Regions from separate parts of the Homo sapiens genome. Here region 2 is linked to region 1. A link means that fine-mapping ties the variant in region 1 to the expression of a gene that starts in the linked region. Tissue or cell type: blood mononuclear cells. Region 1 holds a variant in brackets; the other region holds the start of a gene. All regions are shown on one strand. Distances are from middle to middle.

Region 1 (5,000 bases):
GAGCTCTGCCGGGGACGTGCTGTGGGCCTTTAGGCAAGTGCCTCTCTGGCCCTGCGCTCCTCACCAGGACCCAGAGCTGGAGGCTCTTCATTGCCTTTAGAAAAGTGGAACACATTCTATAAGTAAGAGAAATCCCAAAAGCTCAGAGGCAGGCTAGTGTGGCCGTCGAAAGCCTAGGTTCCAGAACTTTCCCTCTCTGTGCCTCAGTTTCCTCCCTGGTGCAATGGGAATAATAGTACCTGCCTGAGGTCCTCTCAGGAGGCTTAAATGAGAGGAATGAAATTGCTTAGCCCAGCACCTGGCCCGTGGTAAATGCTCAATAAATGTCATTAAAAAATAAAATCACTCGGATGATCATTTTCCAGAACAGCTGCTACAGCTGCCCTTGGGATAGACTTGGCTGCACTGGCTTGGACCACAGTAGTTTATCTATCAGTTTCTGGCCAGTTGGTGGGCTGAATTCACCCCCGGAACCTCTTTCTTCCCAAACTCTGGAGGACCCTGCCCGTCAAGTGACAGCGTGACCCAAGAGCCCTCCTAGGGCAGCTTCCTATTAACAGCCACCCTCACCTGTGCCCAAGACCCTCAGGCCCCCACCCACCATCTCCTCCCAAAACCACACAGCCCTGGCCTCGCAGACAATATGCCCACCACGTCACAGAGGAAGAAACTGAGGCCTGGAGAGCACCCAGGGCCACCTGACATAGGAAGTGGCAGAGGCAGGGCTCAAACCCAGGTCTGTGTCACTCCCAAGTGAAGCAGGTCCCCCCACTCTGAATCTAGGGCATGCTGCTCCCTGACGCCAGGGCCTCAGCCCTTCAGAAGATTCCCTCATTCGACAGCCCTCGTGGAACACCCACTAAATGCCAAGTGTGGTGCCAGGTGCTGGCAACACAGAGAGAGAGTGAGCTATGTGCCCCGTGGTAGAGCCCAGCCCTGGCCCACCTGTCTCTAGGCACCTGAGGCCCCTGGCAGGCTGGTCCCAAGTGGAGGGGAGAGCAAGAGAAGTTCACAGCATTCAGGCAGCATCCGGGATGCCCCAACATTAAAGAGGAAACTAGACCCTGCCTTGAACCTGCCTTCCCCTCCGGTCACCAGACCATTTCTCTTCCCATACGACCCTCTCTGTCCGTGCCTGGCGTATCTACTTCTTCCTCTCCTCTGCGGGACTTCTCCATGTCTTTCCTCACCTCTTCACAGAAATCAGCAGCCCTGCGTGGCCACATCCATGGGCGCCTCTTCCCCCTTTCATTTCCTCCTCCTGGAAACACTTTTCTCTTGCTCGTGTGTCCCAGCCCACGCCCATTTTCCATTGACCTGTGTGGCCTGTCCCTCTCTGTCTTTGTAGCCCCACCTCCTTTAAATGGCCTCTAAAGGCCATGGGTCCCTGGGAATGTCCTGGGCCCTCCTCTCTTTCCTGTGTGCCCAGATCCATCTTTTCTGGGCGGCTGTTTCAGGGCCCATGACTTTGAATTCCACCTTTGTGCTAACAACCCCCAACTCGCGGTCACCAGCGAAGACCTCTCCCCTAGGACCCAGCTGCCCACTCCTGTCTCCATTCGGTTATGTGAAAAACAAACAACCCTGCCACACCTGCACCTGCCCCGCCCTAGGACATGGCACCTCCAGACCCAAGCTGTCATCCTTGACTCTCATGCATGTCACATCCATCCCCCCCTAAAGCCCCAGGGACCTCCCTTCAAAATGACCAACTGACTTCCACCCCCCACGAGTCCATGCCTGGACCACCACAGGAGACCCCTCTTGCCTCACCCCCACAAGACATTCTCCACACCAGTCCTGAGTGAGCTTTAAAAATAGAAGTGAGGGCTGGGTGTGGTGGCTCACGCCTGTAATCCCAGCATTTTGGGAGGCCAAGGCGGGAGGATCACTTGAGGCCAGGAGTTTGAGATCAGCCTGGGCAACATGGCAAGACCCCATCTCTACAAAAAAAATTTTTTTTGAGACAATGTCTCTATCTGTCACCCATGCTGGAGTGTGGTGGCACAATCACGGCTCACTGCAGTCTTGATCTCCGGAGCCCAAGTGATCCTCCCACCTCAGCCTCCCAAGTAGCTGACCAAGGGCACACACCACCATGCCCAGTGATTTTTTTTTTTTTGTAGAGATGGGGTCTCCCTATATTTCCCAGGCTGATCTGAAACTCCTGGGCTCAAGTGATCCTCCTGCCTCAGCCTCCCACAGTACTGGGATTACAGGCATGAGCCACCATGCCCAGCACCACCGCCCCCCAAGTTTTTTAGATGAAAATACATGAGAACAAGCTGTCCTCAAAGCCCTTCACAGCCTAGGCTGAGCGCACATGCAATTCAGACATTCTCATGGCCTGTGGACCCACACAGCTTCACCCCTGCCTGCCTCTCCAGAGCACCTCTTTCCCTGGCTCACTCTCTTCTGGCCATGATGGTCTCCGGTGCCCCCTCCTTGAACACACTGGGTCTTTCCCTGCTGCTAGGCCGTGGCCTGGCTTCTCCTTCGGAATGACTCACTCTTCCCCTGACATTCCTATGCCTGGCTCCTCTGCCCTGGAAGCTCCCCCGACCACCTCAGCTGAAACGTGCCAGTGCCCTTCCGGGCCCTGCAGTGGTCTTCTCCATCACAGACAGCACCCCTTCCTACCTTTCCCAGCACCAAAAGAACCCCCATTCTCCTGTTTATTGGACGCCCTGTCTCCTTTCCTGGGACAGAAGCTCCTAGAGGGATGTCTTGGGCACTGCAGAGTTCCCGGCTCCTAGCCCCGTGCCCAGCATGTGATAGGCACTCAGGAGTCCTAGAGGATCAAGCGACAGCTCTAAGCAAATGTGGAGGACTGTGCTCAAAGACCACCTGCCCCTCCTGCCTCACCATCACCACTTCTCTACAACCAACTCCTCCCTGGAGCCCTCTCGGACGCGAACC[C/T]CATTCCCCTCCCGCTCTGGGCCCTGGTCTCACTCTGTCTGCCCCCATCCCACAGCACCTCCTGCCTTGGTTTTTAAGAGACACACCCTGTGTGTCCCTTGCAAACAGTGGCCTCATCGAATCCTCCCCTCCCCCTGGCAAGTGGTGCTCACTAGCTTCACTTTATAGAAGGGGACCTGGTGTCCGCAGACAGCAAGTGACTCACCCAGGGTCCCAGCTAGCAAGAGAGGGAGCCAAGTCCCGAACCCACGCCTGGCTCCCAGACTGGTGGGCTTTCCCCTGGACCACACCCTTCCAGTGCAACTCTGGAGCTGCTTCTTAATTTCTCATGCCAGAATCCTCAGCAGCATTTATTGGGCACCTACTGTGTGCAGTCCCTGCCCCCAGGGAGCTCCCGGTTGTGCTGGGGATGCCCAGACATGAGGGAAGACTTAGTCACATAGGGCAGAGAGTCAGAACTCGGGGTGAGCAGAGGGGAGGAGGAGGCCTGAGGGCTGGAGGGGCAGGGAGGACAGGGCAGTTCCCTCTGTTTGGCTGTGGCGTGGCTGTGTCTGACACCTCCTAGCAGCCTCCCCACAGGGCTGACCGCACCTGAGCCAGGAGGGAGAGATGCATGAAGAAAGGCATGGGTGACGCCGTCAAGGAGGGAGGGGTGGGCGGGCAACCAAGTGTGACTGGGAGAATACTTGGGGCTCAGCTCACCCCCTTCCCTCAGCATCCAGAACTGTCCCAGGTATGCCCTCCAAACCCAGGCAGTGAGGGGCCAGTTCCTCCATTCTTTCTACACTTCTTTCTCCTGACCTTTCCTCCTTCCTCAAGCACTCCCAAGCAGCTGGTCCATGCCGGGCCCTGGGCTGGGGAGGGAGGCTCAAGCGTCTTCTTGTCCAAGCCAACCCCAACATCCCAGACCATGCCAGGCCACGCCAACCCCAGGGGACTGACCCCAAGTGGCCACCAGCGATTTGTTGGGAGAACTGGAGGGTGCTGGCTGTCCTGGGGCTGGGGCAGGACCATCAGGAAGCTGAGCAGGGCTGGAACCAGGATCCCCAGGTGGAACCTGGGAAGGGTTGGGAGAGAGGCCACGCCTTGTCTCCCCTCCGCCCATCTGACGGGATTGGCCGCCCCAGCCCCGTCCCAGGTGGTGGTGATCCGTCAAGAGCGGGCGGGGCAGACCAGCGTCTCGCTGCTGTGGCAGGAGCCCGAGCAGCCGAACGGCATCATCCTGGAGTATGAGATCAAGTACTACGAGAAGGTACCACGGGCAGGACGGAGTGGGAGGGGCTGGGCCAGCAGGGCAGGGCCCACTGACCACCGTCCCGTGGCAGGACAAGGAGATGCAGAGCTACTCCACCCTCAAGGCCGTCACCACCAGAGCCACCGTCTCCGGCCTCAAGCCGGGCACCCGCTACGTGTTCCAGGTCCGAGCCCGCACCTCAGCAGGCTGTGGCCGCTTCAGCCAGGCCATGGAGGTGGAGACCGGGAAACCCCGTGAGTGCAGGGAGGGGGCGTGGGCGCGGAGCAGCCCAGGTGCCAGGACCCTGGGGTCGGGGGGTGGCCGAGGAGAGAGCTAGTGCAGGCTGAGCCAGTGCCAATGCAGGATTTCTGCTCTCCTTGCCCTACCAAGTGGGGTTGTCGGAGTTTTTTATTTAATTGAGACAGAGTTTCACTCTGCCACCCAGGCTGGAGTGCAGTGGTGCAATCTCAGCTCACTGCAACCTCCACCTCCCAGGTTCAAGCAATTCTCCTGCCTCTGCCTCCTCAGTAGCTGGGACTACAGGCACCTGCCACCACACCCGGCTAATTTTTGTATTTTTAGTAGAGACGGGGTTTCACCATCTTGGCCAGGCTGGTCTCGAACACCTGACCTTGTGATCCACCCGCCTCAGCCTCCCAAAGTGCTGGGATTACAGGCATGAGCCACTGCTGCCAGCCTAATTTTTTTGTGTATTTAATAGAAATGGGGTTTCACCATGTTGACCAGGCTGGTCTTGAACTCCTGACCTCAGGTGATCTCCCACCTTGGCCTCCCAAAGTGCTGGGATTACAGGCATGGACCACTGCACCCGGCCTCTGTCAGCATT
Region 2 (5,514 bases), 62 kb after region 1:
TGGGGCAGGAGCCAGGACAAGACACCCCAAGCTGCAAGGAACCCCTTTCCAACCACAGGAAGGTGAGGGGGTGTAGGTTTCTTTTTCCACTCTTTGCAGGGATCAGGGATTTTCCACTCTCAATCAGGGATGTGAGTCCAAAATTTTGTAGGTACAGAGACCAGCTGGCTCCCATTAGCGGTCAAGGCCCAGGGACCCCTCAGCTCCTGATCCCCAAGTCCAGGCCTCCTCCTAATCCAGGCATGGCTTCTTTGCTCCTGGGTTCCAAGAATTCCATCTTCTCTTCATATAAGTAATACCGTTCCCATGTTTGCAGTGGGTGCCCACCAAGGGCTGGGCACTCACCTGGCCCTGGACATGGCAGGGGGACCTCGCTGGCCCCCAAAACAGCCCCAGGAGATAGGCGTTCATGCTTCCCATTTCTACACGAGGAAACTGAGGCCAGTAAACATTCCCGTGGCCACATAGTTAGCAAGACGAAGAGCTGGGATTCAAACTGCCAAAGTCCGTGCTCCTAACCCACCTCTGCTGCTTCCTGTTCTTAGCCTCACTGCTTCTACCCCAAATTGACATCCATCTTTTCCCATTGCCCTTAGCCACCTAAGAATTAGAGGCCCAGAGGCTGGGCATGGTGGCTCACGCCTGTAATCCCAGCACTTTGGGAGGCCGAGGCAGGCAGATCAACTTGAGGTCAGGAGTTTGAGACCGGCCTGGCCAACATGGTGAAACCCTGTATCTACTAAAAAAAAATACAAAAATTAGCTGGGCTTGGTGGCATGCACCTGTAGTCCCAGCTACCTGGGAGGCTGAGGCAGGAGAATCGCTTGAACTTGGGAGGAAGAGGTTCTAGTGAGCTGAGGTCGCACCACTGCACTCCAGCCTGAGCAACAGACTGAGACTCCATCTCAAGAAAAAAAAAAAAAAAAAGAACTAGAGGCCCAGAGCCACTCGGCTTTGGGAATGCTCAGAAGCCCTCAACTTGCAACCTACTAACTCGTTTCTCCCTTTGTGGAATCCAGTGTTTCTTCTCTTCACCCTAGCCTGGGTCCCTTCGGGACTATAGTTGACTGAGCTCAGAGACCTTTTGGTTTTATCAAACTTATCTTTCCCTCCTGTTCACCCATTGCAGTTAACACTTAATTTCCACCAAGCTGCATCCACAAGCCCAGTGAATTTCCATCTCCAAGCACAGATGTCAAGAGGGCCTCCAGCTCCTGGTGCTTGCTAGTCATCATGTCGTCTGAGACGCAGCCACAGGGAGAGACTGATATCCTAGTGCCAGGGATGCCGGCTTCCAGGTCTGCATCTGCCACCTCCATGAGGCATCGGCCCCAGCAGTCACGTCTTTCTGTGACATTTATCACAGAAGCAATGAAGCCTCATGTCATTCCGTGTTTAACACCAGTCTCCCCCCGTAGAAGGGAGGCCCCATGGGGGCAGGGACCATGGCTGATTTGCTAAGAGCTCTCTCTTCAGTGCACATGGAAGCAAACACTAAATATTTGTTAAATGGTGGGTCTCCCCTCTGGGCCTCAGTTTCCTCGTATATAAAATGAGGAGGATGGGCCGAGTAACCTCAGCCCCTCTCCGGCCCTAACTTGGCGTGATTCCAGGATCGAGAAGAAGCAACAGGCCCCTGCCTGGGCCTATTATTGTCATCAGCGTCCAGCCCTGCTGGAAGCAGAGGGAGGGGTATCAATAAATAATGAACACATTTAAAATTCATTATGAGATTATTTTCTGAGAACAGGGAAAGAGCAGGGGCACAGAATGGGAAGGAAGCAGAAGAGATGAGCCCAGAAAGGGGAAGCCTGGGACATGAAGTGATATTAACAATGAACACGTGCACAGCCCTTTACAGTTTACCCCCAGACACTTCCTCCCCCATCATTTCCTCCATTATCCTCCCAGTGGCCTGTGAGATCTGTATCTGTAGAGCAGGTACAATTATGGTCCCATCCTATAGCAGAGAAAATTGGGGCTCCCTTGACTGACAACACATCAACTGGCAAGTGGCAGAGGCGGGATTGGAATCAAAGGCTCTGACTGTAAGCCAGCACTCAGGCAGCGGGCCCGCCACATGATGCTCACTGAGGAACACCCCTGCCCAGTGTAGAAGAAGATCACGAGGTCAGAGAGCCTGGGAGGGTGAGCTGTGGATGTTCCCCCAGGACAGCGTGTTCTCCCCACAGCTGCTGAGTTGGCAGAACCAAACTTGCCACCCACCCGTCTCATTTACAGTAAATCCAGTGGGTTGCAGAAATAGGACCTGAAACTGCCTGAGGGCAGCAGGGTGGGGGGACAGTGAGGGGACGGGAAAGGGGCCAGCCTGCTGGTCCATGGGAGGGGACCGTCAGGGGAAAGCCCTTCCCGCCTCTGGGGAAGGGAACTTCCGCTTCGGACCGAGGGCAGTAGGCTCTCGGCTCCTGGTCCCACTGCTGCTCAGCCCAGTGGCCTCACAGGACACCAGCTTCCCAGGTGAGGACGGGGCTTGGCGCCTGGGGGAGGCTGGCAGGGCCAATATGGCAGAAAGTGGTGATTCCGTAAGTGTGAGCTTTGCGTCACCTGCCTCGGAGCCAGTTAGGCTGTTTAACAGTGCAGGTAGCTGGGCCCAATCCCAGACCTATGGGACCCAGATCTCTGGGGTGAGTTGGGGAGTCTGCTGCTACCCAGGGCCTAGCGGATGGGCAGGCCACCTAAAGCGGGAGCCTGGCACATAGGAGCTTTGGCATCGCAGAGACTTGAGCTGAGTCTGGCTCTGCACCTTATGTATTGGTTATCTTGGGCAAGTCACCTAACCTCTCTCAGCCCGGCCCCCCTACAGAGAACAGAATCTTTCAGCACTGCTGTGCCTTACAGGAGATCAAGCTTGCAAAAGCTTAGTGCATGCCCTGGCTCAAAATTTATCAGTAAACCAGAGGCAGGAGTGGGATTATAAGCCAGTCGCTCCTGCCCGGCCCAGCATTTCCCCAACACCTTGCTTATTTCCTCATACTCGCTGAGAAAGCTCAGCTTGACTCTTCCAAAGAAATAAGGGGATGTGCAGGTAGAGTTACGATGAGTTCTCAGCTAGTACTGAGTGAGCGCAATGTTTGTGCAGCTGGGGAGTGGGATGTGGCACTGCACGGGGCAGGGGGGACCTTATTTCTTCTAAGCGCCTTCTCCTGTCATCCTTCTGGCAGCCCTGTCAGGTTGAAATCAGCATTGCCAAGAGGCTCAGAGAGGTTAAGGCACTTGCCTGAGGTTATGCAGCCGGTAGCAGATGGGGCTTTAAAGTCAAGTGGGCCTGACTCCATGTTGCGGAAAGGGACTGCTGGACCGAAGGAGATGGAAAGGTCAGAGCCTGGGGGGAGGACAGGAGAAACCGCGCTGGCAATGATGATGGGCTGGCACAGGCAGGAGGCAGTTAAACCAGATGAGTTGTAAGCCCTAACCCAAGGCTGAAACTCGGTGGCTTTTGAAATGGGCTAGAACCAGCACTTTCCCACTCCCCCTGCCCCTGGCTTCCCCAGGAAGCCCAAGTCCTGTCAGTACCCTGCTCCCCACCCTCTCTCCCCACCAACTGGTCACAGCTCTCCACCCCTTGCTGCCTCCAACTGACAGAGCCCCTCCCTCTAAACACAGTCTTTCAAAGGGATTGTCTTTTTTTACTTCTCCAACCATCTTCCCTTCTGTTCAACCACTCAGGAATTCTTGGATGACAGTGATAATAATAAAATAGCTAATATTCATTAAGAATTTCCAACATGCCAGGCTCTGTTGGAAGCTGTAACTCATGTCCTCGCACATACCCTATGAGGGAGAGAGTAGCATTATCCCCACTTTATAGGAGGGTAAACTGTGGCCAGAGAGAAGGAGTGATTTCCCAAGTCCCTTAGCTAAGAAGCAGTAGAGACCTTATGTGAACGCTGAGTGTTGCTTTCCTTGTGACACTACAGGCTCCCGCCACCAGGTGAATGTGTGCTGCCTAACAAGAGCAGCAATCATCGTGGTGGTAAAAAGCCACTTTCACCGAACACTGACCATGTGCCTACCACTACCCTTGGTGTGTCCCATGCATTAGTCCTTTTATCAGGCTGTCTGGCTTCAAAGTTTATGTTTTTACCACCAGGTACAGTGGCCTCTTAACATAACATTGAGTTTTAAGATCCAGTGGATGTGGGTTTGACTCCCAGCCACACAGGAGCTGTGTGACTTTTATCAAGGTGCTTGCCCTCTCTGATCCCGTTGCCTCATCTGTAAAATAAGAAAGCAAGAGTGCATTCTCAGGGGCTGAATATCAAATTACAGGGGATAATGGCATGCAAGCCATCTGGCTCAGAGCCTGGCCTATACGTACCCAACTTATTAAAGTTGTTAAATTGCCATTTTGTAAAACCTTTAGCAAGAGCAAGAGTGAGAGCTGATGCTTATTCATGGATAAGCAGGACCATGCCCCTGAGCCACCCTGTCTTCAGAGCATAGAGCCTGACAGAACCTAAAGCTGTCACCAGCATTCCCTGGCCACACTCATCTTTACAGCTTCCTTTCCTTGGTGCACAGTGTCTGGCATAACTCAGGGCTTTCAGCAAGAAATTGATCAGGACTAGGCTGAGGGGCTGAGGCTGGTTTGCAGAGCATAGGAGCCAAATATCAGTAGGCCTTGTCTGGTCCCAGGGAGCCCTCCACATGCCAGACTCTGGGGTTGGGACAGCCAGCATGTGGCAGAGAGGGTAGGAGTTTGGCCACAACCCTGCTGTTAGAATAGTTTGCTGGGTGATTTTTGGGTAGGTTGCTTTCTAAGTTCCGATCCTCAGTTTCCTCATCTGCAAGATGGGAAATTAATCACAACCCACTTCCCCAGGGTGTTGAGAGGATCAGAGAACAGCAGCAATAGCAGTAGCAGCCACAAGTCCCAATGAGAGCTTGGGGCTCAAGGCTTTATGACTCTTTCCCATCCATGGTCTCACCTGGGTCCCTGTGGCCACTCTGGGAAGTAGGCAGAGACCACTCTGCTCCCCCATTTTAAGAGAGGATACAGTTCAGCCTCTGAGGAAAGGTTTCCTGGAGGAAGAAGGCTTTGACCCAAGCTTCGAATGAAGAAAAAACATTTGGATCTGGGCAAAGGTGGAATGGGCTGCCTCGAGAGGTAATGAGCTGCCCATCACTGAAACGGTGCAAACTATGGATGGAAGAGCCCTTGGCAGAGATGTCATTTCCTCACACTCTGCTGAGAAAGTTCAGCTTGACTCTTCCAAGGAAATAATGTGATGTGCAGCTAGCGTTGTGATTAGTTCTTAGGGCTGAGTGAACACAACGTTTGTGCAGCAGGGGAGTGCGTTGAGGCACCACACGGGGGACCTTGGCAGAGGTGTCATTGAGGAAACTTAAGAATAGGCTGAAGGGTCCTCAGGAACTTAAACATGGAATTGCCATAAGCGGTAATTCCTCTCCTGGGTATAAACCCCAAAGAATTAAAAACAGATACTCAAATCCTTGTTCACAAATGTTCATAGCAGCACTCTTCACAATAGC

What was found. PIP is the estimated chance that this variant, and not a neighbour inherited with it, causes the effect. A credible set is the group of variants that fine-mapping cannot tell apart.
Region 2: C1QB starts here. The variant in region 1 is the best candidate, but not a certain one, in a credible set for the expression of C1QB in blood mononuclear cells (TOPMed, PIP 0.81).

What each region holds. Positions count from the first base shown.
Region 1 is chr1:22,589,280-22,594,279 of GRCh38, forward strand. It overlaps EPHA8 (EPH receptor A8), which reads left to right. Exons shown (of 17, transcript NM_020526.5): 6 at 4,047-4,171; 7 at 4,245-4,407. Among named protein-coding and RNA genes, the nearest start is that of EPHA8, 28 kb to the left of the region's middle. The variant C/T (reference allele first, on the strand shown) is at 2,920.
Region 2 is chr1:22,650,826-22,656,339 of GRCh38, forward strand. C1QB (complement C1q B chain) reads left to right here and starts at 2,411. Exons shown (of 3, transcript NM_001378156.1): 1 at 2,411-2,478.